Regions from separate parts of the Homo sapiens genome. Here region 2 is linked to region 1. The links come from fine-mapping of genetic effects on gene expression. A gene starts in region 1. The other region holds a variant in brackets. All regions are shown on one strand. Distances are from middle to middle.

Region 1 (3,013 bases):
CATGGCTGTACTTGTCTACTTGTCTCATTGTTAGCAATTTCAGCATACTTTGAATTAGTTTTAGTTTTCTAGATAGCAAAGTGCAATTGGGTCTATTAAATTAGAACAGAGGTGGCATCTTTTATCTTCCTATCCCTACAGCCCAGTACCTGAGCTCATTTTTAATGAGAAGACAAATTAATATTTCATCATTTCTTTCTAAAATAAAAATCGGTATGTGAACGCAATGATGGTCATAAGACAGGCAGGAGCTCGAAAGGAGAAGGAGAGTGAGGCGCCAAAGGCTTTGGGGAAGTGGAGTGGGTAACAGAGGGCAGTCTGGGTAAGAATAGAGAAGATGCGGTGTGGTGGCAGGCACCTGCGGTCTCAGCTACGGGTGTATGGGAGGATCCCTTGAGCCCAGGAATTCAAGGCTGCAGTGAGCTAGGATAGTGCCACTGCACTCCAGCCTTGGTGACAGAGCGAGACCCTCTCTCAACAATAACAAAGAACCTAGCCAAGGGACCGTGGCTAGGGGGTTGGGCCCTTTCTCTCTCAGATCTACCTAATGGTCTGGGCTCAACTTCTCCTTTAGAAAAAGAGCTTGGTGGTGGTAGATTGTGAAGACAATTAATTTCACTCTTCAGCTGCTTCTCCAACCCCACAGCACTCCTTTCATTCCACTTGGACTTGCCCCACCTGCCTGCGTCTCGAGGACAGCGACCGCAAGCCATCCATCCCTTTCATTATCCCATTCACTATTCTGGACAGAGTAGACTCTGGAGGAGTGGGTGGTCGGTGTGTTCAGTCCACAACCAGCGCTTTTCTAAGAGGTGCCCTCTAGTCTTTCCCCTCGGGGTGCAGACGGCAAGCGGCTCTGGAAAGGGTCAGAGGTCCTCAAATGGAGACCAAAGGAAGCCACGCGGGCAGCTCTTGAGAGCCATTCCAGCGCATGCCAGGCACACCGAGTGGGGCTTGGCCTCCTCCCCAAGCTAGGAGCTCTCTAGATACCGGAGCAAAGTGGAGGGGGACTTTTTTCCGTCCAGAGAGACTGAACTCCGTATCTGTTCCGCGGTCCGCCTCCCTGCACACACGCCCCCGAGCCGGGAGAGCCTCCGCAGCACCCAGAGAAGAGACCGGAACACAAAGGATGAACGAATGGGGAGGGGGGGTTTGGGGGGTTGGGAGAACGAAAATACCAGCTGCGCTTCCAACATCCAAGGAAGGAAGTGGCAGCGGGGACGGGGAGAGGATGGGAAGGGGATGCTGACTGCGAGTTGGGGCGGGACGCGGTGATGGGAGGGGACCGGGCCGGGAATGCGGGAGGCGAGGGGAGCGACGGGACCTGCCGTTCCGGCGGCCGGGCAGCCAATCGATTCGTCTCCCCTAGGAAGGAGCGAGGGGAGGGTGGCCCAGAGAGAAAGCGCCGCGCGGCCTCGGCTGCCCCCGGCCCGGGACACCCAAACAGACCAAAGAGGATCCGGAGTGGAGCCCGGAGCGGATCCCGCAGCCCGCGCCCGCCGCGCACTTACCCGCGCGCCCGCTGCTGGGTCCCCGGCAGCCGCGCCCCCTGCGCTGGCGGAGTCGGAGGAGCCTGCGCTGGGCCGGCGGGGGGCGGGCGCTTGGGGAGGGCGGAGAGAGGGCCCGCCCGCCGGGACCTTTGCTCGGTCCGGGCGCCCCAGAGCCGCGGGACTGGCCGCCGGAGGCTGCGGGAGGGGCCCGGGCCAGACCTCCCAGAAGCCCCAGAGAGAGCCGCTTCCCCTCCTTCGTGTGACTCTCTGGGAGCCGGGTTGCTGACGGCCCAGCGCTCAGCCGGAGTCCCCGCGCGCTTTTCGGGACTCACCCGGGAGATGTCGGGGCCTCTCGGGAAGAGTGGGCTGCGCCTGCCTTCCGCGGCCGCCTCGCCTCTTCGCTGCGCGGGACCGTGGGGTTTGAGAGCGGCGCCTCCTCGCGGGGCCGAACCCGCCACCCACAGTGGAGTGTGGACTGACACCGCGGCCTCACGGTTCAACCAGGAAAGTCCAAGGCCTGTCCAGCCTGTGGGAGCCCCTAATGCCCGTGCCTGGAGTAGTATCTGGGTGTGTGGTGCGACAGTGCCCACACTTAGGCCTGCCGCTAATCAGTGATTCATTCCTGTAAACTCCACTCTAAGCTCCTTGAGGGCAAAACCAGGCGCTCTCACACACTGGGTGCTCAACGAATACTGAACGAGGGAATCTCAGCATAGCTGGTGCTCAAACATTGCTTTCTGATGAACTGACTTAAATATTAGCTCTTTTTGTAACATTAGGACCAGCTGAAACCGATTAACCATTACTTAAGTTGTTACAGCGAGGCAGAGCCAAAATCTCCCGGGCGTGTGCAAGAGGGAAAGCTTTCTAATTGTGAACACCGCGCGCCCCGCAGAAGGCTGCATTGGCATCACCTGGGACTGGTTAGAAATGCCAAAAACGCCTGACCCGCTCCCAGGTCCAGAAGACAGATTTAAGCTTTGCCTCTTGTCTCCTTGCCAGTTGACTGGCAATAGAAGTTTTTCTTTTCTCAAAAGCCTGTGCCACAGTTTGGTTTCTGTGTGCCTCAGGTTACGAGCCCATTGCTCAGTGACACTTTCAGTCAGTGTATCGTCTTCACTGTGCAATGCTCTCTACTAAGCTGAGAGCAAAGAGTAAGAGAAAATGAAATTTCTGCCCTGCGAGAGCTCACACAGTATGGAGTTGTGTGGCTGTCTTAAAGGCTGTTCGGGGAGGGCAGGTAGAGAAGCCCGGCAGCGCTTTCCCTTGGGCCCCGCTATGCTTTAAACATATCTCTAGATTGCAATTATCCACCTCACTGTAAAGCCTTTCCTGACTATCCAAATTAAAAGTGCTGCCCACCCACCCACGGGAACACCTCCTAGTTCCTCCTCTGCTTTATTTTTCTCTTTGCACTCACCACCATCTGATAGACTGTGTGCCTCTTATTTCATGTATTATCCTCTCCTGTAAAATGTCAGCAGCATGAGGGCAGCTGGTCTGTTTTGTTCCCTATGCCCAGC
Region 2 (2,500 bases), 58 kb after region 1:
GGGCTGGTGATGGAAGGATCTGGGGACAGCTGCCCAAGCAGAAGGAAATGAAGAAAGAGAAAGAAGGCCAGTGTGGCCAGAGGACAGTGGGGAAAAAGAGGGAGGAAAAAGAGAAGTTCAGGTTGGAGAGGAACGAGGTGGCGTGTGTGTATATGGGTGTATCTGCAAGTGTGCAAGTATGTGTGTGAAAGGGTGGAGATGGGGAGTACAGCCTGTGCAGCGCCCGACAGGCCACCATAAGGATGCAGGCTTCAACTCTGAGAAAGATGGAAGCTGTTGGGGGATTTTGCTCAAAGGAATGATACAGCATGACATTAAAAAAAAAAAAAGTCTGGTAAACCATACCTAATGTAACATTGACCATTTTAACTATTTCTAAGGGTCCATTCAGTGGCATTAAATACATTCACAATGCTGTGCAACCATCACCACTATCTATTTCTAGAACTTTTTCATCTTCCCAAACTGAAGTTCTATACCCATTCAACACTAATTCCCCCTTCCTCCCTCCTGCAGCCCCGGGCGACCACCATTCTGCTTTCTTTCTCTGTGAACTGGATTCCTCTGGCGATCTCGCAGAAGTGGAATCATGTAATATTCGTCCTTTTGGGGCTGACTTATTTCACTCAACATAATGCTGTCAAGGTGCATACATACTGCAGCACAGTGATTTATGTTTTAAAAGGGTCTCTCTGGCTGCTGTATGGAGGACAGACCTTAGGGGAGTAAGAGGCCAGGAGGGGCCATTGCCCTGGTCTAGGTGACAGAGGTGCAGCTGGGACCAAGGAGCTCAGGCATTGCTTGCCTGCTGGCATAAAGGTGAAGGCGAAAAATCTCTCAAATGCCCTGTGCTCTGGGGCCCTGGCTCTGCCACAGCCCTTCCAGGGTCAGAGCTCAGAGAGTCACTGGAGTTACCTTTATAAAATTCACTTTGCAGTAGCAGGAATCATCATGCAGGTTCTTGATGACAATCTCTCCATAGTGCTCAATCCACCTCTGCCC[G/A]CTTAAGATGTTATGGATGCAAGAGGTCACTTTGTTCCACTCAAAATGATCCCCAAAACTAAAAAGAAGGAAAAAGTAGAAGTACCAATTTCTAGAAGAGCCAGCAGCAAATGCAAACAAACTCTGCTCTTTTATAAAATAAGTCATGCAATGCATTATTCATCTCTTTATTCACAGAAGCAACACTGGCTAAGTGTCTATGTCACACTGGATGTTCTAGGAGCTTCCACTCTCCAAGGAGGCATGCATGCCACAGAGAATGACAGCATTCAGACTTTGCACTCTGGAAGCTACCAGAGGCTTCACTAGAAGCTGGTGGTCTCTTGGAACAGCCCACTCCCTCCTTTGACAGAGGAGGCAATTCAGAGCCAGAGGGGCTTGTCTAATGTTGCTGAACTAGGAAAGGGAAGCTTGAGAAAGGGATGAAGGTTTTATACAATCTGCTAAACATACATTGCCTGCATCCTTTGTGATGAGAAAGTATTCAGATATTACTTATGGAATTCAATAATTACGAGGAAAATGGTATTAATAATAAGACCAGATACTTACAAAACATATGCAATGTGCTAAGTACTATTTTAGGTGTTTCATGTATATTATCTGTTTAATCTTCACAATAGCCCTAGGAAGTAGGTGGTTTATTATTCTCTTTTTCTAGATGGGGAAACTGGTGATGAGAAAGGTGAAGTAACTTGCCCAGGGATTCGCTGTTAGTAAGTGCCAGAGTGAGCAGGTGAATCTCGGCAGTCCAGTTTCAGAGTCCCTGCTCAGAAGCATCTTGCTTTATAAATAAGTATCAATCATCCCTATCAGATCAAGGCCATACTTTTCTTAAAAGGGATTTTGATAGCAAAGCAGCATAATAAAGGAAAAACACTTTTTTTAAAAAAATTGAGATAGGGTCTCACCCCTTCACCCAGGCTGGAGTGCAGTGGCACGATCACAGCTCACTGTAGCCTCAACCTCCCCAGGCTCAAATGATCCTCCCACCTCAGCCTCCTGAGTAGCTGGGACTACAGGTGCGTGCCACCACTATGCCTGGCTAATTTTTGTATTTTTTCTAGAGACAGGGTCTTGTCATGTTGCCCATACTGGTCTCAAACTCCTGGACTTAAGCAATCTGCCCGCCTTGGCCTCCCAAAGTGCTGGGATTACAGATGTGAGCCACTGCGCCCAGCTAAAACCACCATTCTTAATCTTGTTAGGAAGTGGAAATGAGTTTTTAATAAGCATCTATTCAGGGAACTTTGGTCTCCAGGAGGCATTTCCATTTGAGGGAGAAACATTTTTTAAAAGTGAGCTTGCCAAAAGGAGGAACATTTAAACCTACTGTCAGACAGATTAAAAGAAAAAATACACACTCAATGCAACTGCCGGGGGCGGGGGTGGGCATCCTGTCCCCAAAGCAAAATCTTGGCCCTAAATTCCATAAAGCTCCTTAACCACAGAAGAAGAACTTACACTGGCAGAGTCACATGGGTTGTGCCAATTGGAA

Direction of the effects. Positions count from the first base shown, and alleles are read on the strand shown. Sizes are in standard deviations (SD) of each study's normalised expression.
For the expression in lung of the gene that starts at base 1,580 in region 1, allele A in region 2 goes with a higher level than allele G (small effect, 0.36 SD a copy in GTEx).

Evidence for each region. PIP is the estimated chance that this variant, and not a neighbour inherited with it, causes the effect. A credible set is the group of variants that fine-mapping cannot tell apart.
Region 2: its variant is the best candidate, but not a certain one, in a credible set for the expression of GSDME in lung (GTEx, PIP 0.50).

Annotation. Positions count from the first base shown.
Region 1 is chr7:24,755,885-24,758,897 of GRCh38, forward strand. It overlaps GSDME (gasdermin E), which reads right to left and starts at 1,580. Exons shown (of 10, transcript NM_001127453.2): 1 at 1,512-1,580. It overlaps LOC124901820 (translation initiation factor IF-2-like), which reads right to left. Exons shown (of 3, transcript XM_047421177.1): 2 at 1,778-2,053; 3 at 440-1,685. The coding sequence ends at 972. RefSeq lists silencers at 1,130-1,179, 1,190-1,769, 2,580-2,729 and an enhancer at 1,850-2,079.
Region 2 is chr7:24,814,144-24,816,643 of GRCh38, forward strand. OSBPL3 (oxysterol binding protein like 3) reads right to left here. Exons shown (of 23, transcript NM_015550.4): 18 at 2,467-2,500; 19 at 916-1,060. Among named protein-coding and RNA genes, the nearest start is that of GSDME, 58 kb to the left of the region's middle. The variant G/A (reference allele first, on the strand shown) is at 1,003.